Homo sapiens: one gene and its partners. The protein of the gene in region 7 purifies or fractionates together with the protein of the main gene of each other region. This does not show direct contact. Each region holds a gene or a part of one and is shown on either strand. Other genes may lie near its edges. The genes, in order: ZNF606, IPPK, RNF111, ERCC3, SRFBP1, DHX8 and CDK12.

What was found.
Region 1: the proteins of CDK12 (region 7) and ZNF606 fractionate together in Homo sapiens (co-fractionation; one large-scale study listed by BioGRID). This does not show direct contact.
Region 2: the proteins of CDK12 (region 7) and IPPK fractionate together in Homo sapiens (co-fractionation; one large-scale study listed by BioGRID). This does not show direct contact.
Region 3: the proteins of CDK12 (region 7) and RNF111 purify together in Homo sapiens (affinity purification with mass spectrometry, with the first as the bait; one large-scale study listed by BioGRID). This does not show direct contact.
Region 4: the proteins of CDK12 (region 7) and ERCC3 purify together in Homo sapiens (affinity purification with mass spectrometry, with the first as the bait; one large-scale study listed by BioGRID). This does not show direct contact.
Region 5: the proteins of CDK12 (region 7) and SRFBP1 purify together in Homo sapiens (co-immunoprecipitation; one large-scale study listed by IntAct). This does not show direct contact.
Region 6: the proteins of CDK12 (region 7) and DHX8 purify together in Homo sapiens (co-immunoprecipitation; one large-scale study listed by IntAct). This does not show direct contact.

The regions. Positions count from the first base shown.
Region 1 is NC_000019.10:57,978,637-57,982,845, reverse strand, and holds part of ZNF606 (zinc finger protein 606), read left to right. Parts: intron 1-2,566; coding exon 2,567-4,209. UniProt on the Homo sapiens protein: May act as a transcriptional repressor.
Region 2 is NC_000009.12:92,663,303-92,667,511, forward strand, and holds part of IPPK (inositol-pentakisphosphate 2-kinase), read right to left. Parts: intron 1-4,209. UniProt on the Homo sapiens protein: Phosphorylates Ins(1,3,4,5,6)P5 at position 2 to form Ins(1,2,3,4,5,6)P6 (InsP6 or phytate). InsP6 is involved in many processes such as mRNA export, non-homologous end-joining, endocytosis, ion channel regulation.
Region 3 is NC_000015.10:59,025,156-59,029,364, reverse strand, and holds part of RNF111 (E3 ubiquitin-protein ligase Arkadia), read right to left. Parts: intron 1-4,209. UniProt on the Homo sapiens protein: E3 ubiquitin-protein ligase. Required for mesoderm patterning during embryonic development. Acts as an enhancer of the transcriptional responses of the SMAD2/SMAD3 effectors, which are activated downstream of BMP.
Region 4 is NC_000002.12:127,269,882-127,274,090, forward strand, and holds part of ERCC3 (general transcription and DNA repair factor IIH helicase/translocase subunit XPB), read right to left. Parts: intron 3,081-4,209; coding exon 2,984-3,080; intron 1,573-2,983; coding exon 1,455-1,572; intron 1-1,454. UniProt on the Homo sapiens protein: ATP-dependent 3'-5' DNA helicase/translocase. Binds dsDNA rather than ssDNA, unzipping it in a translocase rather than classical helicase activity. Component of the general transcription and DNA repair factor IIH (TFIIH) core complex.
Region 5 is NC_000005.10:121,975,111-121,978,974, reverse strand, and holds part of SRFBP1 (serum response factor-binding protein 1), read right to left. Parts: intron 3,661-3,864; coding exon 3,588-3,660; intron 1-3,587. UniProt on the Homo sapiens protein: May be involved in regulating transcriptional activation of cardiac genes during the aging process. May play a role in biosynthesis and/or processing of SLC2A4 in adipose cells.
Region 6 is NC_000017.11:43,490,134-43,494,342, reverse strand, and holds part of DHX8 (ATP-dependent RNA helicase DHX8), read right to left. Parts: intron 3,953-4,209; coding exon 3,880-3,952; intron 3,179-3,879; coding exon 3,093-3,178; intron 2,161-3,092; coding exon 2,051-2,160; exon of another isoform or gene 1,969-2,050; intron 1,682-1,968; exon of another isoform or gene 1,663-1,681; coding exon 1,303-1,662; intron 899-1,302; coding exon 754-898; intron 661-753; coding exon 457-660; intron 1-456.
Region 7 is NC_000017.11:39,516,729-39,520,937, reverse strand, and holds part of CDK12 (cyclin-dependent kinase 12), read right to left. Parts: intron 3,499-4,209; coding exon 3,382-3,498; intron 983-3,381; coding exon 851-982; intron 1-850. UniProt on the Homo sapiens protein: Cyclin-dependent kinase that phosphorylates the C-terminal domain (CTD) of the large subunit of RNA polymerase II (POLR2A), thereby acting as a key regulator of transcription elongation.

The DNA of each region.
Region 1 (4,209 bases), on a different chromosome or scaffold from region 7:
GCGGGACCCTGTCACTATAAAAAATTTAAAAACATTTAGCCAGGCATGGTTGTATATACAGGATTCATGCCTGTAGTCCTGTTACTCGGAAGGCTGAGGTGGGAGGATTGCCTGAGCCCAGTAATTTGAGATTACAGTGAGCTATGACGGTACCACTGCACTCCTGCCTGAGTGAGACCCTGTCTCAAAAAAATTAAACAAAAAATAATGGACTTGGGTGGTAAAAGGGGGGAAATTACATATAGTAAAGAGAAAAAAAGAAGCAGAGAGAGAGGGCAAGGTCTAGTTCTTGTTGGGACCTGCCTGGGGCTTTAGACCCTGTAGCAATCTGGATAATGACTTCCCCCACAAAGATATCTGCATCCTAATCTCCAGAATTTGTGAATGGGGCACCTTGTATGGCAAAAGGGACCTTCAGATGAGAGTAAATTAAGGATCTTGCTGTGGGGAGATTATCCTGGATTGTCTGAGTGGATTCTAAATGTACTCACAAGGGTCCTTTTATAAGATTGTGGTGGGAGGGTCAGAGACATGGGAGAGGATGTGATGACAGAAGCAGAGGTTGGAGTGATGAGCTTTGCAGATGGAGGAAGGAGCTGCGAGCCAAGGAATTGGGGCAGCTTCTAGAAGATGGAAAGGGCAAGGATATGGTGGATTCCTTAGAGCTTCTGGAGGGAGCACAACCCGGCCAATAACTCCATTTTAGCCCAGTGAAAGCCGTTTTGGACTTCTGACTTCCAGAACGGAAAGATCATAAATTTGTGTTACCTTAAGTTACTAAATGTGTGGTAATTTGTTACAATAGCAGAAAGAAACTAATATAGCCTCCTTTGGTTGTTAGAGGATTGATACTTAAGCAGTGATAATAGGCAGTTCCTGTGTATTAAACTTGCCAGGAGTTTGGCTGGATTCTGAGTCTCGACTTTAGTCATCAGAAAAGCTCTCTAAGGATAGCAGCAGGGCCATTGTTCACATACAGATTAGCAGACTGTAACTCCTGTGTCTGTTTTTTCACACTATGCTGTCTTCCTAGTCCATCTATCATTGCTCTAAAAATATTCTGTGGTGGATAGAAGTGTAACTTTAGGGGTATCCATAAACTCTGGTGATGTTTGCCCTTTGGGTTGGTGGATCTTGTGTGATTGACTGGATTCTGTGACATAGGAAACAAAGCATTTTGTCATAGATAACATCCTGGCTTGAAGCCTCGCTTGGTGATACTCTCTAAACACCCCTCTCCTCCTTTTTTCTGCACTTGTCAAGATATGGGAGTAGAAGGACATTATAACACAGAAGTGAGAGCACTCATGATGTAAATATTACTTGCTAAAGGCCTTGTGTGCTCATCTACCTAACTTTTGTTAAGATGAAAGGCTTTATTCTTTTTTTTTCTTTTTTAACCTTAATAACATTCACTGGGTCCTTTTGTCAGGGGTCTTCAAGACCACCTCCAGGTTCACTGATTCACTATGAGTACTTATAGGACTCAAAAGTCATTATACTCAGGATTATGGTGTATTACAGTGAAAGGATACAAAGCAACATCAGCAAAGGAAAAAGGTGCATGAGGTTAGACCAGGTGCAAGCTTCCAGTAGCGTACATGGGGCACACTTAATTCCTCAAGCAAGGAGTTGTGACAACACGTGCGAAATTTCTACTAGGAAACTTGCCTGAGTCTAGGAGTCCAGTGTGTTTATTGAGAGGTTGCTCATCCAGGCACACAGTGCCTGCGTGACTCACTGCCATCGCTGAAACTCCAGACCACCCTGAGGGAAAGCAGGTGATCACTATGAATGACATTGTTTGCACACATATCTAAATAAGTTAAAAGTAAATGTGCTTCAATACCTTGAGCATGCAAAACACTCTTACTAGTTAGAACATTCCAAGATCTTAATTCCTAGGAGTTGGCTAAGGGCCAGTTAGGAAACAGGCTACCTTTGCAAGGTTTGAGCACGTCAGGCCTGCAGAGTTAACTCTTTCTTGCACATTTTTTTTTTTTTTTTTTTTGAGACGGTGTATCGCTCTGTCGCTCAGGCTGAAGTGCAGTGGCGCGATCTTGGCTCACTGCAAGCTCTGCCTCCCGGGTTCATGCCATTCTCCTGCCTCAGCCTCCTGAGCAGCTGGGACTACAGGCACCCGCCACCACACCTGGCTAATTTTTTGTATTTTTAGTAGAGACAGGGTTTCACTGTGTTAGCCAGGATGGTCTTGATCTCCTGACCTCATGATCCGCCCGCCTCGGCCTCCCAAAGTGCTGGGATTACAGGCGTAGCCACCTCGTCCGGCCTCTTTCTTGCACATTCTTATACTGGTCTTCCTTTTCATGGAAAGTACTTTTAAATGGTTTCATTAGTTTTCAGTACACACTTTGTATTCTGGTTAACTGTTGTTTACTTTTCACTATTCTTTTCCCTATTATGATCTTTCTCTGAGTTCTAAGCCTGGACTTGAAAACAAATTTATACTAGTGTTTTTGATAATATGGACAGTAAATCTCACCATTCCCACTTTATTCTAATGTCTTTCTCTATGCTCTCATAGCTTTTTTTCTGTCTGTTTCAGAATGGGTGAGAAATCTTGAAAGCAAAGCATTGATCCCAGCACAGAGCATTTTTGAGGAAGAACAATCCCATGGCATGAAGTTGGAAAGATATATATGGGATGATCCTTGGTTCTCCAGGTTAGAAGTTTTGGGATGTAAAGACCAATTAGAAATGTACCACATGAACCAGAGTACAGCTATGAGGCAGATGGTCTTCATGCAAAAGCAAGTACTATCCCAGAGAAGCTCTGAATTCTGTGGACTTGGGGCAGAGTTTAGCCAGAACTTAAACTTTGTTCCATCTCAGAGAGTTTCTCAGATAGAACATTTCTATAAGCCTGATACACATGCTCAAAGTTGGAGATGTGACTCAGCCATAATGTATGCAGATAAGGTTACCTGTGAAAATAATGATTATGACAAAACTGTTTATCAGTCCATTCAACCTATTTACCCTGCAAGAATACAAACTGGAGATAATCTTTTCAAATGTACTGATGCTGTTAAATCTTTCAATCATATAATACATTTTGGTGATCATAAAGGAATTCACACAGGAGAAAAACTCTATGAATATAAGGAATGCCATCAAATCTTTAACCAGAGCCCATCATTTAATGAACACCCAAGGCTTCATGTTGGAGAAAACCAGTATAATTACAAAGAATATGAGAATATCTTTTATTTCTCATCCTTTATGGAACATCAAAAAATTGGTACTGTAGAGAAAGCGTATAAATACAATGAATGGGAGAAAGTCTTTGGGTATGACTCTTTCCTTACTCAACATACAAGCACTTACACTGCAGAGAAACCCTATGACTACAATGAATGTGGGACGTCTTTCATCTGGAGCTCTTACCTTATTCAACATAAGAAAACTCATACTGGAGAAAAACCCTATGAATGTGATAAATGTGGAAAAGTTTTTAGGAATCGCTCAGCCCTTACGAAACATGAACGGACTCACACTGGAATAAAACCCTATGAATGTAATAAATGTGGAAAAGCCTTCAGCTGGAATTCTCATCTTATTGTACATAAGAGAATTCATACAGGAGAAAAACCTTATGTTTGTAATGAGTGTGGGAAATCTTTCAACTGGAACTCTCATCTTATTGGACATCAGAGGACTCATACAGGAGAGAAACCTTTTGAATGTACTGAATGTGGGAAATCATTCAGCTGGAGCTCCCATCTTATTGCCCATATGAGAATGCATACTGGAGAGAAACCCTTTAAATGTGATGAATGTGAAAAAGCTTTTAGGGACTACTCAGCCCTTAGTAAACATGAAAGAACTCATTCTGGAGCAAAACCATATAAATGTACTGAATGTGGAAAATCCTTCAGCTGGAGCTCCCATCTTATTGCCCATCAGAGAACTCACACGGGAGAGAAACCATATAACTGTCAGGAATGTGGCAAAGCATTCAGAGAACGCTCAGCCCTCACTAAACATGAGATAATTCATTCTGGAATTAAGCCCTATGAATGTAATAAATGTGGAAAATCCTGTAGCCAGATGGCTCACCTTGTTAGACATCAAAGGACTCATACTGGAGAAAAACCCTATGAATGCAATAAATGTGGAAAATCCTTCAGTCAGAGCTGTCACCTTGTTGCTCATCGGAGAATTCACACTGGTGAGAAACCCTATAAA
Region 2 (4,209 bases), on a different chromosome or scaffold from region 7:
ACCATGCTGCGCGGGTCTGAGGACTAGGAGCCATAGGCTGCCCCACACAGCCTGGGCATGGGGCAGGCTCTACCATCTAGGTGTGTTCATATGGCAACAACATCACCTAACAATGCAGCTCTCAAAATGCATCCCTGGTGTTAAGCGATGCTTGACAATAAATAGAAAAAGACTAGAAGAAAGTGCACCAAAGTGTTAACAAAACTTGTTCTCTTCATGGAGAAATATTGGATGTTTTTCACTTCCTTCCTTCTGATATTCTATATTTTCAGAGAGAAGAAGCAACAATTGGTGTTAAATAAAAATAGAAGGCCACAAAAACCCCAATACATTAAAAGGGACACCTGCCAATGGGAAGCCTGAGGGGGCACCTTATGGGTGGAATTAAAGCTACTAACTACAAGAGCCTTTCAGGACAGATGAGGAGAGACTTTCCCGCCACCCACAGAGGACTCACTCTGGAGGGGTATCACCCACAAAATCAGCTGTTCCAGAGATCTGTCAAAAGACAAGGACCAAGGTCAAGTCTTCCATCAGGCTGAGGAGATAACCTGAAGCTGAGATCAGACAACTTTCATGGGAAGGGAAGACAGAAAAAGACAACAGCAGCAGGGGTCACCCCTCAGGATGCCTTCTAGAAGCAATGCTCAGCTCCAGCTTCTTCCGAATTGTGAAGATGACTCCCAGGCAGGGGCCATGGGGGATCCCAAATGTCCAGTCTCAAGAGGCTGCCCTCCCTGTAGACCCTCCTTAGCTTACCCCCGCAGCTCCAGCTCCAGCTCTGTCCCAGCCAGAGAAGGCTGCCCGGGGTCTGTCAGTCACCAGGGGCAGGAGGTGCCGAAGTCCACCTCTGCAACCCAGAAAGGGATGTCCAGGATGCGTAGGACCGTGGAGGGAACAAGAAGCAGGGCTTACGGTACTGGGCTCCAACAGGAAGCGCTCCCAAGGGTGAGCTTCGCTTCACTGGGAATGTATGGCCTCAGATAGAAATACAAAGCACATTTGACACCGGATGAAAAGTGACATCACCAAGATGCCTGTGGAGGATGGGAGCCCAGTACTCTGCAGGCAAGAGCAGGGAGGCCAGACTGGAGACAGCCTGGGGTCAGGGCGCAGTAAGTGCTGGCCCCTTGTCCAACCTGTATGGGGCATGTCCTCAAGCCTCGGCAACTCCGTCCTGACCTCATGGTGTCCTCTGCAGGACTGAAGCAGGCACAGGTGTGGGCCATGGGGGAGGTCACACACCCACACAACTCTCAGAACATGGGGAGGCCTGTGGGGATAGGCACACCTCGTGCATGGGGCTGACCCCTATAGGCATGGAAAGCCTCACTGCCTGTAAAGGGGAAGCAGGGCTGCCTAGAGGCCCACAGTGAGGGCCACAGGGAACTGTGAGCAAGTCCGGGCCCTCAGATCTCCCAACCGCTTGGCAACAAGGCAGGAGTGGCCGGGCCCTAGGCACAGCCTTGCTCTCTGCAGACACAGTAATGATGCTTTTCTCACCCTCCTGGATCGCAGCTCTCAGAAGACACAGGAAGTCACTGGGGAGCTTTGCTCTGACTGAATTCTGATGCAGAAGGAGGCTCAGTCAGGCAGAAGAAAAGTGGCTGTGTGACCTCAGAAGGTGTAAAAGTAGGAGGTGAGCCAAGGCCAAACCAACAAACCCCCGTGCACGAGAGGCACTGTCACAGGCTGCAGTCACCAAACAGCAGACCTCATCACGCAACTGCAGATACAAAGAAAGGAATAAACAAAGAGCGAGCCACAAGCACAGCTCTCCAATGAGCTCAAATGAGACAAGAAGGAACATCACCAGGAAAGAAGCCACATCAGCTGCGTCAGCCTAGAGCGCCACTAAAAATCCCAAATGCAGAATACATCACTAGTTTAAACAAAATGCTAGCAGTAACAGAAAGCTAAGACTATTTCAACTAGGTCCAGCTAAAAATTGTAAAAGGGAGCGACCAAGGGCTTGGGCACATGTTATACAGTCAGAAAAAAACAGAGAACATAAACGTATGTGCTTTCAGCATCCACAGTAGGAAGTATGGCCCAGTTAACAGTCCTGCAGGACTGCACAATGGCTTTCCACTTAACCTGTTCTAAGTGATTCTGTAATGGATATCTTTGTGTATAAGATCTTTATTTACGTTTCTAATTATCTCCTTAGAACGGACTACTAGAACAGAAATTAGTAAATCAAAGAGTATAAACTTTTTAAAAATTAATCTTTTTTCCTGAGTATCATACATATCCATTGTAGGAAATTCAGAAAATATTTAAAAAACAAAAAAAAGTAAAAGTGATTCGTGATACTATCAGTTACAGCCACTTAGAACATTTTCATCTATTTTCTTCTAATCATTTTGTAATTATAACCACATCATGCATCTTCTTTTGTAACCTGCTTTTTCTACGTAACTGTAAACACATCCTCATATAAAGGACTTAATTCATCCACTACAAAATAATCATTTAAATTATTAAAATATACAAAATCATGCTGTATGGCAAAAAAAATACATATATATATGATCTATGAACCAGAAATCTTAAAACACAAGATGAGAAGAGAAACAGTAGAAGGGCACCTGACCGCTTGAGCTTCACACCTTCAATGCCCAGACAAATATCCCAAGCACTAAACAGGTACCAAAGGGACACCAAAACTCCCCAGGCAACAAAACAATTTGCAGAAATGATCTGAAGCTCTCAGACTCTCAGAAAGGTCACGAAACTGGAACAACTGGAAGTGAGCAGCTTTGTCCACACATGTGATCAATTTAGTTGGCTGGTAAGCCAACTAAATGGCAAAGTCTTTCCTGTCACCTCTGTCAGTAAGAAGGAAAACATCATGACAGCTTAGTGTCATGACAGGAGTGGGCCACCTTCTGCCCCTGCTCCCCAAGGCTGAGGTGGTCCGGAAGGGGCTCAGTGCCCCAGACAAGTGCATGATCCAGATCTGAAGACACCTAGGAGATGGAATGACAAACCAAACCTAAAGTGACCTTCATAGGACAGGACACTGAGCCAAAACCAACAAGCTGAAGGCGAAGGAGGCAGGCGCAGGCGTCACACAGGAGAGAAATCCTGCGGCAGTGCATAAAGGGGCAACCTGTGGACTTCACTAACCTGAGATGTGGCCACTGGCCCAAGTACTGCACCTTCAGGCTGCAGCGAGGAAACTGTGCCCAGATGGGAAGTTCCCTCATCAAGGAGCCCCCACAGGGTCAGTGTCTGGAGCTCCAGACACACACCAGGGAACATGCCAGGCTGCCGAGAGCCTCTCAAGCATGCCACAGGGTCCACACCACATGAGGCAGAGAACACCATGGTTACCTGTGCCTGGGAAAGTTCAGGTGCACAACCATCCCAAACAGAGGCAGAATGCAAACTGACAGGCAAAATGAGAATCATCCTGGGCCGTCTCTGAGTGGAAGGGCCTTGGGGAAGCTGACCACCTTCTGTCAGGAACACCTTTAAACGCCTCTCTATGGCTGGCCTGCTATTTACCTTCCTGCCCACCCTGGGCACAACCTCCCACCCTCCTGTAGCCCACACCTAGTTCCTCCATCCCCAGGCCTCATTTCCTACAAGTCCTGCGCTGCACAGAAGGCTCTCTCTCATCCCATGTTTGCATACTGCAGGAAGAACATCACTGTGCTCCTTCTAGTGCTGACAGCCAATGACCATGCAGATCTCCTTACCTAGGCCCTCGGCTCCTGCAGGACGAGCTCAGGCTGGCTGAAGGCGCATCATGTTCTCATGGTAGAGGGGATGGGGGTCAGCACAGGACTCATTAGGGACCTTTCAATTCTGAGAGAAGCTGATGTCCTCTCAGAGAAAGCAACCCTCTCCTTACCTGGAAAAACTTGGCAAAGGCCTCCCTCTCTCTTGGACTGAATGAGGTGGATCTAAGGAGTACAGTAGCAGGGTCCACCTGCTCCCACACCCGGCTGGAAGGAGGCTGGGCGCATGCTCAGCATCCACAAGACCACGGACTCCTCCTATTCTACCTCACCCATCTCTTATCCCACTGACACACACCCTCTGCTCGAACTCAACAGGTCCTAAAAAGCTGCCTTCTGGGAATTGCTCTCTCTCCTCCTCGGTCCACAGCCTGAGCAAACAGGCCACAGGGCAGAGCTGGTGGGCTAGGCTTGGTTCAGGTTACCACATCAGGCACAGGCTCCATCTGACCTTAACTTG
Region 3 (4,209 bases), on a different chromosome or scaffold from region 7:
TGAGCATGGCAATGAGCAAATTACAGAAGGCAGCCAGTCAGACAAGGATCACTTTAATTAAAGGCAAGAACACAGAAGTCACAATGATAAAACACAGGTACATGTGATCTAAGAGTTGAATGGGGCCAAACAGGATGGCTGTAATAAAGAACACAGGTAATAACAAGTGTTAGAGAGGATGCATAAAAAAAAAACATTGGAACCCTCATATATTGCTGATGGAAATGTAAAATGATACAAGCTACTTTGGGAAGCGGTCTAGCAGATCCTCAAAAATTAAATACAAGCTGGGCGCGGTGGCTCATGTCTGTAATCCCACCACTTTGGGAGGCCAAGGCGGGCGGATCACTGGAGGCCAGGAGTTCGAGATCAGCCTGGCCAACATGGTGAAACCCCATCTCTACTAAAAATACAAAAATTAGCCAGGATAGTGGCGCACTGACTGTAATCCCAGCTACTTGGGAGGCTGAAGCATGAGAATCGCTTGAACCTGGGAGGCAGAGGTTACAGTGAGCTGGGACTGCACCGCTACAGTCCAGCTTGAGCAACAGAGCAAGACTCTATCTCAAGAAAAAAAAAAAAATTAAACACAAAATTGCTATGTGACCTAGCATTTCCACTCCTAGGTATGTACCCAAGAGAAATGAAAACACATATTCATAAAAAAACTTATAAACAGCAACATTAGTCATAACAGCCAAAAAAGTGGGAACACAAATGCCAATCAACTGATGAATAAATAAATCCATACAAAAGATTATTACTCAGCAATAGAAAGAAATGAAGTACGGTAGTCCCTCACTATCCAGTTTAACTTTCCACAGCTTCAGTTACTCACACTATGAGAGAGAGACCACATTCACATAAGTTTTATCACAGTATGTTGTTAGAATTTTGCTACTTTATTGTTGTTGTTAGTCTCTTATTCTGCCTAATTTATAAATTAAACTTTATCATAGGCATGTAGGTATATGAAAAAAAAAACACTATATGGTTTCAGGCATCCACTGGGGGACTCAGAATGGTTTCCCCTTGGACAGGGGCGCAGACTACCATACTGACTCAAGCTACAACATGGATAAACAATATGCTAAGTAAAAGAAACCAGTCAAAAAGATAACATAATGTAAGATTCCCTTTATATGGAATGTCTGGAATAGGCAAATCTACATAGATAGAATGTGGTTACCTAGGGCTGGGGATCATCGGAGGATTCAACTATGATGGCCGAAAAGCATGGAGTTTCTGGCCAGGCGCGGTGGCCAAACCCTACACTTTGGGAGGCCGAGGCGGGCAGATCACCTGAGGTCAGGAGTTCGAGGCCAGCCTGGCCAACATGGTGAAACCCCATCTCTACTAAAAATACAAAAAATTATCCGGGCATGGTGGCGTGCACCTGTAATCCCAGCTACTCAGGAGGCTGAGGCAGGAGAATTGCTTGAACCAGGGAGGCAGAGGTTGTAGTGAGCTGAGATCACACCACTGCACTCCAGCTTGGACAACAAGAGTGGGGAAAAAAAAAAAAAAAGGTGGGCCAGGTGCAGTGGCTCACGCCTGTAATCCCACCACTTTGGGAGGCTGAAGCGGGTGGATCACCTGAGGTTAGGAGTTTGAGACCAGCCTGACCAACATGGTGAAAAGAAACCCTGTCTTACTAAAAATACAAAAATTAGCCAGGCATGGTGGCAGGCACCTGTAATCCCAGCTACTCAGGAGGCTGACGCAGCAGAATCGCTTGAACCCAGGAGACATAGGTTGCAGTGAGCCGAGATTGCGCCATTGCACTCCAGCCTGGGCAACAGAGCAAGACTCTGTCTCCCAAAAAAAAAAAGAAAAAAAGGTATAGAATTTCTTTTATTTTCAGTGAACTGAAAATGTTCTACAACTGATTGTGGTGCCAGCTATTCAACTCTGTGAATATACTAAAAACCCAGTGAAATAAAATCTCAATAAAACTCCTGCCAGAAAGTCAAGAGGTTTAAAAAAAGTGAAAAAGTCAAGAGGAAAAGTATCAAGATTTCTAGGCATCAGAGACTCCATCAGCAACAGAAGTCTCATGATGTATGTTGGAAACAGCTGGGGTTCTTCCAGAAACCCATGTCAGAGTTATGTTCTGGTGGATTTCAGAGGAGGAGATCTTGGAGTCTTTATGGGCTGAAGATTTAAAAATTAGACTCCTCATCCGTAATTACTAAGTCCTCATGTTGATAATGGAGATCATGAGAAGCAATGAAAACTTGCCAAAAACCAGACAAATTCTGAGAACATGCAGCCATACATTAATTTACAAAGAAGCAATTCACAGCACAATTAACTAAACCCAATTTCTTTTCCATCATTTCATGTCCCAAAGCCAAAACAATGCAATCAACTCTTTATGGTTAAATCTGCTCTGATTTTTGATCAGTTTAGTCTGTCCAATGAGACAAGGGTAGAGGAGAGCAAGGGGGGGTGGTTTGGTGTATGCTGTGGTGTGTGTTTGTACACCAGTTAACTCTTCTCTGAGTTAACATATCATGCAGTCATTAAATGCAAAATTAATATCCCATATAACTAAGAGGTTCCCACCCAGGGAGTAATTCATACTATTTTTTTTTCTAAAATCCATCGCTGTATTGTATCATGTTCTAAATTTTTTTTTCTAAAATCCATCCCTGTAATTGTATCAGGCTGTATTTTGAACTTAGAAGAGGAAAGTTCAAAAGGAAATAAACACAAGTATTGCATTTAACTTAAAAAGCAGCAAATATAACAGATAATATTCTAAATTATTTGCTGTTTGATAAAACCATATTCTAGTCTTTTATTTTTGTAAAAATTATTGGCTGATCTAATTTACAAAGGAGGCAAATGCGTACAAGATATATCTCCTTGGTGACATTATAAATGGCTTGCTGTTACACACTGTTTCAATACTGAAACCATAATACTAGTCCCTCTTTGTGTAGATCGATCCAATCATTTCATTGCTATGTCATGATGACTGCATGCTAATTACTCCTGATACTAGTGTAGAATACACCACTATTAGTAAACCTTGCACTAAGAAAATACGATAGCTAAAAAAAAATACTAACTTTCAAAACTAAAAATTAGGGTTGGGATTTAGTAATTCACATCATAAACAAGTTTATGTGAGCAAAAGGAGGAAAAACCCATTAAGACTATCCATACAACTCTGAGGAACTCTACTTCTAAACTGTGATACACTATTATTGGTATGATGCTTCACCACCAATTATAAATATGAATACTTGTTTCAACTTTAAATAAAAATGTAATGATTGCTTACATGACTCTAAAGAAATAAGATTTTAAAAGAAAAAAAAAAAGCCGGCCGGGCACAGTGGCTCACGCCTGTAATCCCAGCACTTTGGGCGGCTAAGGCAGGCAGATCACCTGAGGTTGGGAGTTCGAGACCAGCCTGACCAACATGGAAAAAACCCGTCTCCACCAAAAATGCAAAGTTAGCCAGGCGTGGTGGCACATGCCTGTAATCCCAGCTACTCGGGAGGCTGAGGCAGGAGAATCGCTTGAATCCGCAAGGCAGCGGTTGCGGTGAGCCGAGATCGCGCCATTGCACTCCAGCCTGGGAGACAAGAGCAAAATTCCGACACAAAAGAAAAAAGAAAAAAAAAAAGCCATAGATGACTTGGCATTTTTCTACAAAAGTTTTAGAGATTATCAGAAAATCAACTAGAAATATGTCTACCATTTAACTATCTTTTTAATATAATTAAGTGAAAAAAATAATACCTGTACTACAGGGATATCACTTGGGGTGTGTATTAAATTTTTAATTCTCTTATTTATTTTACTATGTGCCAGCTTAAGTATATTAAATCAAATGCCTGAAAGAATATTCTCTTCTACTACCTATAACTACTACTACTCATATCTAGATAATACAGACAATATGCTTTGTTACATATTCTAAATAGCCAAAATTTCATTAGCAAGAAAGGTATTTTCCCTCAAAAGTATCACTATGGACCCTCAAGTGCATTAGCTCGTACTAAAATTTCTCAAGAGATTTCTGCTAGGAGTACACAACCTAATAATGTACTCAATTATGAAAAGAAGAGTGGGACCCTTGATAAACTTATTACCTTTCCTAGTAGAAAGGAGAAAGTTATACTCACGATAACTGCTATGAAACTATAAGATAAACTTGATTTCTGCCTGGGCGCAGTGGCTCACGCCTGTAAT
Region 4 (4,209 bases), on a different chromosome or scaffold from region 7:
TGGTGGTGCACGCCTGTAGTCCGGGTACTCGGGAGGCTGAGGCAGGTGAATCACACTTGACCCCAGTAGATGGAGGTTGCAGTGAGCCGAGATTGTGCCACTGCACTCCAGCCTGGGTGACAGAATAAGACTCTATCTCAATCAATCAATCAATCAATCAATCAATAAAGGAGTTTTCAAATTAGAGTAAGGAATAAGTAATGAATTATATTCACATTTGCTAGCAGATCATAGTCCTGTCAGTTTATAAAAGCTACTGTCTCAGCCTCCCAAGTAGCTGGAACCACAGGTACACACCACCACGCCCAGCTAGTTTTATTTTTTGTAGAGATGGGGTCTCACTACATTGCCCAAGATGGTCTCAAACTCCTGGGCTCAAGCTATCCTCCTGCCTTGGCCTCCCAAAGTGCTGGGATTATAGGTGTAAGCCACTGTGCCCAGCCAGCCGACTACATTTTATGACTTATAAGCTGAATCCTCACAGCAGTCTTGGCAAGACAGGATTGTCACCCCCACTTTGGATGGGAAAACCAAGTCTCAGAGGAGAAAATAATTTGCCAAAGGTGACACAGCTGGCTTGGTGCCTGAGTCCATGCTATTTCTAGTCCATGCTATCTGCCTCATCTCCATTTTAAATACAAGCTACTAGACGCTTCTTAAACACATCTGAACGCAGTACAGTTCCAACAGATGCCCACTAATCTTGTCATTTTCAAACATTCTAGCAGTCCAGATGCCTCCTTGAATAAGCAGACTCCTTGAGGATAGGGCTTGTGTCCTTGTCTCAGGATGTGCCCTGGTCCCAGTAAGACAGACACGGCCATCTCTTAGCAAGAGTGTCAGTCCCTGCCATGTCCACAATGGCAGTCTGGGCCCTTTTACCGCAGTAAGCAAGCACAGGGGTGCCACGCCTCCTCAGAAAAAGCCTTTGCAATGAGGATTCTCACCTCCTCACTCACTGAGCTTGCCCTGCCCCTGCTGCAAGCTGCCACCAGGGCGGCACTCTGCACAGGTTATGAATGACGTGCCCATTGTGTGTCTGCCCAAGCTGCTCCTACCAAACCTTTCCCTGCCTCCTGATCAAGTTCCAGAAGCAGCTTCCAGCTCCTCCACTTACACTGGTGGCCCAGCTCTGTTTTCTCCCTTCCATGTCTACCCCATAAGCACTGCCTTGCCCTGGCTCCCTCTCACCATCTACCAACACAGCTGCACAGTGTACAGAGCACATCTGTGTGGATTCCGTGACACTGTCATGGAAAACACCTGCATATTCACCCCCAAGGTATGAGAAATAATGATGGGCCATAAGGATCTAGGTCTTTGCTTTGGGATTCTCTCCCTCCAGAGTCTATTTAGCCCCAGGGCACATGGCAGCTCTCACCCCTATCGTCTTCCTAACTAAAGTGGTTTAAGAGGAGTGACCTCCTGCAACAGAAGATGAAAGGCCACTTTACCTTTTTTAGCTCGAAGCACCCGCCCTAGCCTTTGGGCTTCCTGACGCCTGGAGCCACCATGGGATGAGATCTGAATGAGGACATTTGCTTCCGGCAGATCAAACGAAGTGTCACCTACCTACAGAAACAAGTTGGAAGGTTTTTATATATGAGGAAAAAAAAAAAGTCAACTGATCCAGAATTTAAATAAGTTCTGTAGATAATTTTGAAACATAATCACTCTTTTCTCCTCTTTATACCAGGGTCTATCTGATGCAGGCAGAGAGAGGTGAAGCAATAAACCTCAGAAAGGCATCTCTGGGTCTCCAGGACCTTGTGTGAGTTCTGCTAAGAGTCATCCTGAAGAATTAATACCAGGCATCAGTGACATTCAGTGCTGGGTGCCAGGAGCCCAGAGATGAGAGGGCCCTTGAACAGAGACTGACTTTGAGTCATTCATTTTTTTGGCTACAGAAATATGTCTCCACAAAACCATCCATACTCTTACCTGTTGGCCACTGACACCAGCAGCACACGTGGGATGTGACCTGGGAGGAACAACTGCCCCATATGGAATTCTGACTGTAGGTGGATTCCTCAGCTCTGGGGCTCCAAACATCGAGGTTCCCAGCCACAGACATGAAGGTTTGGTGCTTATAAGCGCCCAGCCACAATCACATAAAATCTCATTTCTTTTTTTTTTTTTTTTTTTTTTTTTTTTGAGACGGAGTCTCGCTCTTGTTGCCTAGGCTGGAGTGCAACGGCACAATCTCAGCTCCACTGCAACCTCCACCTCCCGGGTTCAAGTGACTGAACCCTGCTGCCTCAGCCTCCTGAGTAGTTGGGATTACAGGCGTCTGCCACCACACCCAGCTAATTTTTGTATTTTTAGTAGAGACAGGGTTTCTCCATGTTGGCCAGGCTGGTCTCGAACTCCTGACCTCCGGTGATCCACCCGCCTCAGCCTCCCAAAGTGCTGGGATTACAGATGTGAGCCACCGCGCCCGGTTGTAAAATCTCATTTCTTTTGGGCTTTGGGTCTGTCTTAATCTGAATGACTATTCTAAACTGTGGGGCTACAGCTTCTGATTGCAGAGTAAACCATCCCTGAGCTGGGCCTGCGGAAGTCTGTGCTGACATCCACCACCCATCATCAAGGGACACCAGGAACCAGGACAAAGGCTGCCGCGACACACAGGATCTCCAACTTGTAAAGAGAACTTCATCTAAATGCCTACTTTTGCCAGAGTAGGAAATGAACTTTTTTTCCTTTTATAAATAAGGAAATACAACTTAAAACTTCTACATCCCCAAAAGAACTGGAAAAACCTCAAATAGCCTTTATAGATTATCCATGATGCATGCAAATCCTCAGTCTGCTCCTTCCACTAACCCCAGGCAGTGCCCCCTATCCCTGGACATGTCGGAAATGAAAACATGCAGGAGAAGTTCCTTCAGCAGACATGAATTCACTGTCCAGGAATCATAGTGTACCCCCCAGGTCCCCAGAGTGCTAGGGGCCTCACCTCCACCCCATATGCCACACAAACCTTGGATATGAAGATGGTGTTAATTTTGGGGTTGTGCTTGAAATTCTGGAGAATTTGCATCCTTTCCCCCTGAGACGTAGGTCCGTAGATATAGGGTCTAGAGAAGAATGAAGCTGTGTTAGACCACAGAATAATGCCTCAGTTATCTTGAAAACACATCAGAGGGAAAAAGGAGCTCAGGCTAGCTCTTCTCAAGTAGAAAGCCCTCGTCATGTAGGAATATCGTTACACCCAAAAAAATGACTGGCTACAGATGCACCTCCCAGCCTTCCCCACTGATTCTAGGTTTAGGCCCACCATTCTCTTCGGGATTCCCTCCTTTCCATTTTTCGTTTTCTTTTTGGACTATGCTTTTTCCTGCTTCAACATCTCTTACTCTCAGCACAGAGTCTATACAAGGAGCATCTCCACATTTCATGAAGCCCAAAGAGAGGTGCAAAGAAACCACTGCTATTTCCAAAAAAAGGCTGGAAGCAACTGTTTGCCAAGACACAGGCATGCTCCAAGAGATGAGCAGAAAGGAGAAAAGTGCCCTTCAGCCATTATTGTGCTGATTTCCCATAACACTAAGTTTTAAAAACTTCTCTTTAATTTCTAGCTCCCTGCCAGGCGCGGTGGTTCACGCCTGTAATCCCAGCACTTTGGGATGCCGAGGCGGGTGGATCACCTGAGGTTGGGAATTCACGACCAGCCTGACCAACATGAAGAAACCCCGTCTCTACCAAAAATACAAAATTAGCCGAGTGTGGTGGCGCATGTGTGTAATCCCAGCTACTCGGGAGGCTGAGGCAGGAGAATCACTTGAACCGGGGAGGCAGAGGTTGTGGTGAGCCGAGATCGCGCCATTGCACTCCACCCTGGGAAACAAGAGTGAAACTCTGTCTCAAAAAAAAAAAAAAAAAAAAAAAAAAATTTTCCAGCTCCCTGCCAAAGGGTACAACCCTATCAATGAACTCAATGGTTATCATCCCATAGCATTGGGAATGTCACACTCCTTCCCTCTGTCTTGGAATGTGACGGTGGACAGTTTTTGTAGCTTCCCAAGAATCATAACAACAGTGATGATGATGATGACAACAGCAAAGACAATGAAGACAAACTACAGGTACGCAGGACCTACCAACACCAGGCATTGAGCTGAGTATTACATTAAAAAAAAAAAAATCCAGCCAGGCGCGGTGGCTCACACCTGTAATCCCAGCACTTTGGGAGGCGGAGGTGGGTGG
Region 5 (3,864 bases), on a different chromosome or scaffold from region 7:
AGAATGTAAAACTAGGGGAAGAATAGAACAAAAGGAGAAAGTTTTAAACTAGAGGAGAAGTAAGAGGTAGCAGGCAGAACAAGGTCTCAAAGAAGAATACATAAATTCTCATCTTAAAGAATATTCAGGATAGGAAGAAGTAACAGCCTTAAGAGAGGAAGAGGTTAAAAAAGAATACAGATAGGCCAGGAGTGGTTGCTCACGCCTGTAATCCCAGTACTATGGGAGGCCGAGGTGGGCGGATCACCTGAGGTCAGGCGTTCGAGACCAGCCTGGCCAACATGGCAACACCTTGTCTCTACTAAAAATACAAAAGTTAGCCAGGCATGATGGCAGGCAACTGTAGTCCCAGTTACTCAGGAGACTGTGGCAGGAGAATCATTTGAACCCAGGAGGCGGAGGTTACAGTGAGCAGAGATCGGGTCACTGCACTCCAGCATGGGCGACAGAGAGAGACTCCATCTCAAGTAAAAAAAAAAGAAATACAGATATAGGCTACTGTGTATATTTACCTGTCAGGAATTAAAGGATCTGAAAACACGTTGCACATCTTTCAGTCTTTTTTTTCCTAGATGGCAAGTTTCATGTTTACTAAATTATCTCCTCCAATATCTAGGAAAGTGAGTCTGGATATATCATAGGATGTTCTCAACTTACTGAAGCAGTATACTACAGTGGATAACATAATTAGCTTTATAATCAGTTATAAGTTGCTCAGTTTCTCTAAGCTTGAGTTTCTTATTCTGTAAGACAGGGATAAAAATGATATCTACCTAGTGAGACAGTAAATATAAAACACATAATATAATGCCTGGCACATAGTAAATGCTCAGTAAAAGCTAGTTGTTACTTTTATTATTGAGTAAGAGACTTGTTGCACATTTTGAGTAATTTCAGTATATGCTTGAATTTTACCATCTCCTTCTCCAGTTAAGTAACTTACTGATCTATAAGTGTTGATAGGCTAATTTAACTAACTTTCAAAGAAAAAGAAACTGTTTTAGAAGGCAATATTTCTACTAATATCAAAGTTAAAAGTATGGACACTATTATAGAAAAGGCAGCAAAGACTTGGGTTTCATACACCATAGTCTATAAAATTAGAACCTATGATTTTATAGTGTAAAGATCAAGCCAATTTTTTTTCTTAGTTGGCCAGAAAAAGCAAACTCTCATTTCTAAAAATACTCATGATTTCTTCACAAAGAAGTCATCCTGCAACAAAATACCCTATTATTATAGAAAGCAAGAATAGGATAGTATGTCATCAATAAGACTATAAAAATGAAGCAGTGTCTGAGCCAAGGAAAAAATTTCTCTGGAAAAATAAATGAGCAGAGGTCTTTTCTCCAAATTTAATTGAGATTGAGAGTTTGTTTTGTCATCATTTATTTGATACTCCCAAGTAGGTAATAACCATTTCCTAAGAAAATTACAAATGACCTTTTAATTAAGAAAAATGCTTTATTTATTTGCTTTGTTTAGAAAAGACAACAAAATTTGTAAAAGAACCATAAATAAGGAATAAAATTTGACACGTAAGAACAGCAAATATATAGTCTTTCTAGTATTCATTTTATATTTAAATTCATTCCAGTTTTTAAAAAGCATTACAAAAGAAGTTGAAGTCAGAGTAGCCAACCCAGCCTGCCCTAACTCCTGCCACAAACTCAAGACATATATATACTATGAATTTTATGAATTTAAGGAATACATAGGCTATGAATTTGGCTTTCTATGATGCAACCATTCCATTGCGCAATCACAGGGAAAAATAGAACACAAATCAAACCAAACCAAACCAAACCAAACCACGATAGTGATGTGGTAATCTTGTAAACCTACAAACTTTATCACTGAATCAGATTTCCCTTTGCTGATGAGATTCAAAACAAGAAACAGAAAACAGGCTTTACATTTAGATCAAAAAGGACAACTTTTCTTTCTAATTAATCAAATGTATCACTGAAATTTACAAAAGGGAAGTATTCTAAAGATTGAGTATCTTTTGTTCTCAAACTCTTCATACACCACATACAAGTTATTATATATAACAAACCATGGAAAGAATGTAGTGTGTGTGTATGTATATATTTTTTATATATATAAAAAATTTAACAAATTCCAGTTTACTCCAGTTTTTAAACAGTATTACAAAAGAAGTTAAAGTCAGAGTAGCCAACTATACATTGTATGTGTATGTGTATGCACATATATATATTATATATATATATACATGCATACACACACACACTGCATTCTTTCCATGGTAAAATAAAATCAGCAATTATATAGTAGCTCAAAGCCTCTGAATAATTTAAGACTACAAAAATGACTATTCAGAAGAAATTACAGGGAAAAATTTAGGTAGGCAATGTAATTTAGTAAGAACCTTGGTTAAGAGAAAGTGAAAGAGATAAATTGTAACTTCCTATTTTATTGCTATTCTCAAGACAAAATCTCTAAAGATTTTATTTCTCATAGGAATATCATTTTAAAAAGGTATATGAAAAAACTAAATAATCTGCAAACCACAGAGACACAAATGATCACTGACAGTCAAATACAGAAGACTTTTTTTTCCTGAAGGACTGAATAAAAAGGGAATTATAACCTTGAGAAATAAAAGTTATATCAGATGGATTCCATGAATTTTATAATAGTGTGCAGCAGAGGGAAGGAAGAACACAAGAAACAAATATACTTCATATCAAAGAGTCGTTTCCTAGATGTTTTTATTCAGATTAACTGGGATAACTTTGTCCTATTAAACACTTTACTATCCGTTTAAAAGGAAGAAAGGCTGAGAATCTTTGATAACTTAACTCAATTAAAATAGTTAGAGAGTTTTATTTCTCTTTTACTTAATTCAAAACTTGAAAGTTATACCAAAATATAATAGGCAAACATGCATGCAAAATGACCCTGCAATTAAGAAAATTGCTGGGACCAAATGTTGTTTTTAAGTTCTACAGTAAAACAGTCTCCCAGACATTTAATGTCATGTCATTTGGTAAATGAAAGTTTCCTCAAAGTAAGAGCAGCAAGAAGACCTAAAAATTATGCTAGTGAAGAGTCTGACTGAAAAAAAAAACAAAAATATGGGATCACATTGGTCTAACACTAATTTTATTTGAAGTTACTACAGAACTGAATAAAATGCCGATACCAATACATAAAAATTTATTGAGCTGGCAACAAGGAAAGCATGATGTCAGCCACCAATATCACCATCCACATTCCCAAATAGCATGAAGACTTTAATTCTTGAACTGACTTCGTGCTAAAGTTACAGTAAAAATAAAAACCTGAGGCAGGAGGCATTATTAAACATAGATGAATTTAGTTTGGCACAATTTTGACTCAAATTAGCCTAGCACTTTAACAAATTCAGTCAAAAACAGAAAAATGCAAGCTTAAATGTTACAATTTTCTAAATGTGCTACATTCTTCACCAAACAGACTGATACAAGATGTCTTACGCAACTCTCGGGAATATTCAAATAAGCAATACCACACACAAACAAAATGCAGGATAACAGGATACTCAGAAACATACACACATACACACCCACACAAGTCCTTACCTTCATGGCATGGATTTCTTCAAGCAATCTTTGCGCCCGTCTTTGGTTTTTTAACAGTGCATCTTCAGTACCCCTGCAAAAAATACATTACGATATGTAGCCAGGCAAAGCATTAATTTTAGACTTATAGTGTAATGGATAATCACTTCATTTCTTTTTAGAAAAGCGTAATAAATCTCTAAATAACAAACACGCCACTATCCTACACTGTCCATTTCCCCCACTCCCAAAACACACCTCAATTTACTAACCAAACCCATATGTTGGAAAATGGCAA
Region 6 (4,209 bases), 4.0 Mb from region 7:
CACGGCTAATAAGTGGCTGATATGGTTTGGCTGTGTCCCCACCCAAATCTCATCTTGAATTTCCACGTGTGTGGGAGGGACCCAGTGGACGGTAACTGAATCATGGAGGCAGCTCTTTCCCACGCTGTTGTCACGATAGTGAGTAAGTCTCATGAGATCTGATGGTTTTAAAAAGGGCATTTCCCTGCACAAGCTCTCTTGTCTACTGCCATGTGAGATATGCCTTTCACCTTCCTCCATAATTGTGAGGCCTCCCCAACCAAGTGGAATTCTAAGTCCAATAAACCTCTTTCTTTAGTAAATTGCCCAGTCTCAGGTACGTCTTTATCAGGAGTGTGAAAACAGACTAATACAGTGGCCAAAAGTTATCCCAGGCCATCGTGCTCCAGGGCACACCCCTAAGCACCATGCTACATGCTGAATGACTATCTGGTCATGAAAACTAAAGGCCCCAACCTGTTTGATCTCCCACTTCTCTGGGTCAGAGATTCGGGTGAGGCGCTTGCGTTCCAGTGAGTCGTCCTCTACTTCAGGAGCACTGACAAGGGACAAGTGAGTGGGTCTATCAGGATTCCGCATTGAGGTCTCCTCATTGGTCTCCCCGACAAGATTTCGCCGTCTATTTGGGTTTAGATCTTCTCCAGTCTCTTGATCCACATCCTAAGGCACAAAAACAAGGGAGCTGTCTCACTTGCTGTCCTCTTCCATTCCCTTGGCCATCACATGTAAGAACAGGCTGACCATCTCACCTACCTTCATGCTCAGGCTGGTCTTGGTCCCAGTGAAGGACAGCACTTTGACTTTGACCCTCTGGCCTTTGCTCACGACATCAGCTACATTGGCCACACGACCCTCCCGCCGGAGCTCAGAGATGTGCACCAGGCCTTCCCACCGCTTCCTGAGGGAGAGCCAGACACATCTGGAACATGCCAAAAAATATTTTTCCCCCAACCAATTTCTACCCTTACTGGAACTAACAAAAGAAAATGGTCTTAAACTCAAGAGAAAAGTACCATGAAGGTGGTCAAACAATAAAATAGTATTAACACTCTCCTCATGGGGAGACATGGGGTGGGGAAGCAAATTCTATCTGTCCCAACAAGCAAAGGACAGATCTCCTGAAGACAGAGAAAGGAATAAATGGCTCTGTAACATTTCAAAAGAGTCAATTTCTAAGAACCATGTATGGCTGATTTGACTAAAGTGTCATTAATCAAAGTAACTTTTTAGAATGTGAACATCCTCAGTGATAAAAGAAATTCTGCCCATCACTGGTGTGAACAAAAGAGCACCAGTCATTACCTTAGTCCTTCCAGCTGCACAAAGCAACCAAACTGCATGATGCTGGTAACTTTGCCATTATAAATGTCACCAATGGTGGGCTCTTCTGGAGGAGGGCGGTCCACATGCTTATCCCGCCATCTATCCAGATTCCGCTCTCCATATTTGTCCCGGTCCTTCCGGTCTTTGGGGGGACTCTGACTCCTGCTCCTGGACCGATATCTAGACTTCACTTTATTCCTCTCCCGGGTCCTGGAACGTGATCGAGAGCGGGATCGGTGTCTCCGCTTGTGGTCTCTATCTCGGTTTCGTTCCCTATCTCTGTCTCGATCTCGGTTTCGATCTCGGCTTCGACTCCGCTTCTTCTTCTTTGTCCTGTCCCTAACAAATCAATAAGCACCTGTTTAAAAAAGAAACCAATCCGATTTCATCTTCGCATCCCCAAGCACCCAGTACAGTGCCATGCACATGGTAGGTACCCACTAGGTTTTGAACTGAATTAGAGTTTCAATAACTACGACATCCCTATAAGCCAATAAAGAATTGAGCCACAAACATATTCAGCCTCTTTCAACCCTGACTTCTATATTCTGAACAACCTAGCATTTGCTACATACACTTAGCAGGAAGCAATGAAAACAGATCCAACAATATGATATATGACCAGTCCAGATTCTGTAAACTTGCCCAAAATTTTGCTTGGCTGGTCCATAATATTCAACTGTCACAGTACCCTAAACTTCCAAAGGACAGGACACTAAGGACAAACCGGTGTTCAGCATCTCTTTGCTTCTCCTGGCCTGCTGCGCTGGGCATTAAAGCTTCCAGTTCTTTCAGGACATCCACAGCAACTTTCACATCATCTTCATCCAACATGGTCTGCAGAGGTAGAGGCCGGCAAAGTTAGGAAAAAAAACTACTCAAGAATCTGTATGTACCTCAGGTACATCTATAAATCACTAATCACTATGTGAGGGAAATAGAAGAGGGGCAGAGATTTCAAACTTGATTCAGGATAGATGCAGAAGAAATGGAAAAAAGGCTCTTGAGAATTACTGCTACATTTGACAAATCCCCTCTGTCCTTAATAGAATTCTATGAAAGGCAGTTAGATATTAATCATCCCTGCCATGAAAGAATGCAAGTGATGATTATATTAATAGAAAACAGGTGTTAAAAATTTTAAAAAGCAACTCTCCCTCTGCACTCTTCCTCCCTACCCCCACTCCAGCTTTATTTTTTTAAATAGCCCTTATTGCTATCTGCTATGTTACATACCTATTTGTTTGTTTATTGCCTATCTCCTCCCCACCAGAATGTTTACATGTTTATTTCCTGCTCCCTACCCCAAAATTAGGATATAATCTCCAAAGGCTGAAACTCTTGTCTGTTCTGTTCACTGCTGTTATCCAGGTACTTAGAACAGTGTTTGGCATACAGTAAGTACTCAATAAATATTTATTAAAATGAAATTTAAAAATCAAAATGCTTTAAAAATTAGACCTTTAACAAGTAACAGAGCAAAAAAAAAAAATCTAATTTCACACCTTAGGCATCTGTTCCAGAACCTTATTTCATATTCCTAATCACTACTTCCCCAAATTCCCAATCTCATTTCCCTTGAATATCATTCTCAGAACCCCTTAACAAATTCAATACATAGTACATGCTCAGGGAGTGATCAAACACTTTCATTCTTAAAAATAAGTTACAACAAAGGCAAACTTAAAATTAATAAAATTACTATGAGACAAAGAAAAGGGGTTGAGAATATATATTTATAGTAGACACTCTTAAAATGGTATCAGTACCCGAACAGAAGGGTTGTCCGGTTGGCAAAGGACTGGGAAGAGTTCCTTCAGCTTTTCTTTTTCTGTTTTAGGTTTAACAACTGGATCTTGTTTCATTAAAGAGCATGAAGGGGTTAAAAAAAGAGATATATATTTAATATTATTAATGATTAACAAAATAACTTCAACAATAGATTTGTATCAAACTGAAACAGAACATGGCATTTTGCTATATATTAATCATACCTGTTACTATAAATGTAATTTAATTTTCTAAATACATTGATCACAAACTATCTCGAAATGTAGCAGAAAGAGGAGTGTAGCAATACTCATTGGGTTATGTCTTATCTTTTTTATTTTGTCTTAAGTCGTTTGAAATTTTTTTTCCCCTTGAAACGGGGAAAAAAACCTCTGTCACTCAGGCTAAAGTACATTGGTGCAACTATGGCTCACTGCAGCTTCACCCTTTTGGACTCAAGCAACACTCCTTCCTTAGCCTCCCAAGTAGCTGGAACTACGGAGGCACGCCATCATGCCTGGCTAATTTTTTTATTTTTTTGTAGAGATGAGGTCTCTCTATGTTGCCCAGGCTGGTCTAAAACTCCTGGGCTCAAGTGATACTCCCACCTTGGCCTCCCAAAGTGCTGGGATTCCAGCAGTGAGCCGCTAGGCCCAGCCCATTTGAAAAATCTTACTGGAACATTTACTTGCTCAGCAACTGCTGAGAGGAAAACAAATGCAATTTACAGGATGTTCAAAACCTACACCATTCTAGAAGCTAAGCTCAGCTGGAAGCTCTGCTTACCTTTGCTAGTGGAAGGCTTCGCTGGAGGCCGCATGGTTTGTATGAGACGCAGCAAGTTACTAATAAGAGAATCCTTTGAAAAGAAACATAGAACGAAAATTGTCAGCTCCCATATCAGTGCTTAAATACACTTAAAAGGCAAAGAATGTCCTGTAGGGAAGGGTGGTTACGCACTTGAATTTAGCTAATTGGAATACATGAAACATAGTGTGTCAACCTGGTGTAGCATGAACCTAGTATAATAGCTTCAGAGAAAGCCGATATTTAGGACTCTTTGGGGAGAAAAGTTATTAGGCTCCCTGCAACCATTTTATTTCCCAAGGTTTAGAA
Region 7 (4,209 bases):
AAGCAGAGGTTGCGGCGAGCTGAGATTGCGCCATTGTACTCCAGCCTGGGGAACAAGAGCGAAACTCCATCTCAAAAAACAAAACAAAATGAAACAAAAATACAAAAAAATTAGCCGGGTGTGGTGGCAGGCACCTGTAATCCTAGCTACTTGCAAGGCTAAGGCAGGAGAATCGCTAGAACCCGGGAGGTGGAGGAGGCAGAGCAAGATTCCATCTCAAAACAACAACAACAACAACAACAACAAAAACACGCTGGACGCAGTGGCTTACGCCTGTAATCCCAGCACTTTCGGAGGCCAGGGTGGGTCACCTGAGGTCAGGAGTTCGAGACCAGCTGGGCCAGCAAGGTGTAACCCCGTCTCTACTAAAAATACAAAAATTAGCTGGGTGTGGTGGTGTGTGTCTGTAGTCCCAGCTACTCGGGAGGCTGAGGCAGGAGAATCGCTTGAACCCTGCAGAGGTTGCAGTGAGCTGAGTTGCACCACTGCATTCCAGCCTGGGCGACAGAGACTCCATCTCAAAAATAAATAAATAAATAAATAAACCAACCCACAAAAATCTAAAAGGAATACTTTCAAAGAGGCTCTACACAACAATATTCTGGGATGGAGATCCAGGGACAAAAGAAGATAGCTTGAGTCAAATTAGAACAAGTATCAAAGCTAAATCTATTACTTATATAAAGAAAAAAACAACAAAGATAAAACAAAAAAAACAAACCTCAACCATAATACTCAAAGACACCTCTTCATTTGGGTCTTACTGGGCATCTGTGGTTCTTTTATGAGTTTCTCATCGTCTAAGGCCCAGGGAAAGATTTAGGGTCACAACATGGCTACCAGCACTTACTCTGGAGGAGCCATTTTGCTGAGTTCGACATCTTTAAGGAAGTCGCTCTGTAGGGTCTGTTCAGCTGTGCACCGCTTACTAGGATCTAGTGTCAGCATGTGGTCCAATAAATCAAGTGCTGCAGAAGGAATGCTATGGAAAAGAACACAGAAAGGACAAGTTCACAATGACCCTACAGTTCTCAAATTTGTAATTTTGTTTCAAAGGGTCTCACACCTGTAATTCCAGCACTTTGGGAGGCCAAGGTAGGACTGCGTGAGGCCAGAAGTTTGAGATCAACCTGGGCAACATACTGAAACCTCATGTCTACAAATATATATATATTTTTAATTAGCTGGGTGCAATGCTGTGCACCCTGTAGTCTCAGCTATTTGGGAGGCTGACATTGGAAAATCACTTGAGCCTAGGAATTTGAGGCTGCAATGAGTTCTTACTGCACAACTGCATTGCAGCCTGGGCAACAGAGCAAGAGCCCATCTCTTTTTAAAAAAAAAAAAAAAAAGGATGTGCAATGGTGGCTCATGCCTACAGTCCCACACAGCACTTTGGGAGGCTGAAGCGGGTGGATCGTTTGAGGCCAGGAGTTCAGGACCAGCCTGGCCAACATAGTGAAACCCCATTAGCCAGGCATGGTGATGCACGCCTGTAATTCTAGCTCCTTGGAGGGCTGAGAATCGCTTGGACCCAGGAGGCGGAGGTTGCAGTGAGCCAAGATCACACTGCTGCACTCCTCCAGCCTAGGTGACAGAGTGAGACGGTCTCAAAAAAAAAAAAAAAAAAAAAAAAAAAGTCTTTGAATTTCCATGTAAAACCAAAGAAAGCAAGCTGGAGGTTGGCTAACACAAGCAAGCAGATTTGCTCCCACACAGGATTTAAGAAATGCTGGGCCGGGCACAGTAGCTCATGCCTGTAATCCCAGCACTTTGTGGGGCCGAGGCGGGCAGATAATCTGAGGTCAGGAGTTCGAGACCAGCCTGGCTAACATGGTGAAACCCCGTTTCTACTAAAAATACAAAAAATTAGCTGGGTGTGGTGGCACGTGCCAGTAATCCTTGCTACTCAGGAGGCTAAGGCAGGAGAATCACTTAAACCCAGGAGGCGGAGGTTGCAGTGAGCCGAGATGATGCCACTGCACTCTGGCTTGGGCAACAAGAGCGAAACCCCATCTCAAAAACAAACAAACGAGAAATGCTGTGCTATAACACAAGTAAAAAATATGGCCAATTCTGGCTAGGTGTGGTGGGCTTACACCTATAATCCCAGCTCTTTGGGAGGCTGAGGTGGGCAGATCACTTGAGGTCAGGAGTTCAAGACCAGCCTGGCCAACATGGTGAAATGCCATCTCTACTAAAAATACAAAAATTAACTGTGCATGGTGGCGGGTGCCTGTAATTCCAGCTACTTGGAAGGCTGAGGCAGGAGAATTCCTTGAACCTGGGAGACGAAGGTTGTGGTGAGCCAAGATCGCGTCACTGCACTCCAACCTGGGTGACACACACAAAAATATGGCCAGTTCTATCCATCTATTAAAGTTAAAAAAAGTAAAATAAAATAACAGAGAGGGAAAAAAGTAAGAAGAAAACAAAACCAAAACATGGCCAGGCGTGGTAGCACGAGTGATCTTCCTGCCTCAGCCTCTCAAAGTTTAAGCCCAGCAATTTGGGGGGCTGAGGCAGGAAGAGCACTTGAGCCCAGGAGCTCAAGACCAGCCTGGGCAACATTAGGAGACCCTATCTCTACACGGAAAAAAAAAAAATGCCAGGTGTGGTGGCGGGTGCCTGTGGTCCCAGCTATTCAGAAGGCTAAGGTGGGGCCGGACTCAGAGGCTCACGCCTATAATCCCAGCACTTTGGAAGGCAGAGGTGGGTGGATCACAAAGTCAGGAGTTCAAGACCAGCCTGGCCAACATGCTGAAACCCTGTCTCTACTAAAAATACAAAAATTAGCTGGGTGCAGTGGCAGAGGCCTCTAATCCCAACTACATTGGGAGGCTGAGGCAGGAGAATCACTTGAACTTGGGGGGCAGAGGTTGCAGTGAGCCAAGATCATGCCACTGCACTCCAGCCTAAGTGGCAAAGTGAGACTCTGTCTCAAAAAAAAAAAAAAAAAATGAAGGCTAAGGTGGGAGGATTGCTTGAGCCCAGCAGGTCAAGGCTGCAGTGAGCCCTAAACGTGCCACTGCACTCCAGCCTGGACAACACAGCAAGACCCTGTCTCAATTTAAAAAACAAACAAACAAAACCCATGAAGCCAACAATTCCATTCTCTTTTTCTCATGGAAAGATCAAGAAGGCTATGAGAAAATTTATATATTGTTCAAAATAAAATGGTTTTCTATTGTCTAAAGCCTTCAGAAGAGAAAATTACAAAAGGGCTATGATAAAACTCATATACTGTTCGAAACTAAAATGTTTTCCTACACTGTGTTGCCATGATAAACTGGGACAACATTAACTACCCAGACCAGGAAAAAGCCAAGTCCCAACACCAGCCAGACACAGAAACGAGATGTTCATTTTCCCCAAACTCACAAAGAGAATTCTTCTCGTAGACGCCTTCGATATTGCTTCTTCGGTTTCATGGTGTTGAAGTAGGGCAGTTTGATAACATCAGGCCACACAGCTGGACAAGGGCTACCACAAAGTCGGCTGAAAACAAAGCAAAAGCAAGAACAATGGAGTGAGTGAGTCAACATCATGAATTCCGGAGGTTTCAGAAGCAGAAATTATTACCTCCTGAGGTCTGGGGAATCTTTGGTTATTACATTACAGGGCATGCAGAAAGGAAAATATGACATTACTGCTTTAAGGGCAGAAAGGCAGAGAACAGAAAGAACTGGTTATAACAGAGGAAAGAAAAAATACTCGGATAATAATCCTAAATGATCCACATTATTTGGATTTGTGAAATGTTTTAATCCCCCCATACAGGTTTTTATTACCAGTTTTGTTCTGTTCAGTTAGTAGTAATTACAAAGGGCTAAGATGATCCTATAGTATCCCTATAGGGTAAACTGTGAGATGAGAAGAGAGTATAAGACTGAAAATTTTGAGAGATAATCAACAGTTTACCAAATAACAACAACAAAAATATCACCTTTATCACCTTTAAAAAATGTCTACATTGGCCGGGCACGGTGGCTCACGCCTGTAATCCCAGCACTTTGGGAGGCCGAGGTGGGCGGATCATGAGGTCAGGAGATCGAGACCATCCTGGCTAACATGGTGAAACCCCGTCTCTACTAAAAATACAAAAAAATGAGCCGCGTGTGGTGGTGGGCACCTGTAGTCCCAGCTACTCGGGAGGCTGAGGCAGGAGAATGGCTTGAACCTGGGAGGTGGAGCTTGCAGTGAGCCAAG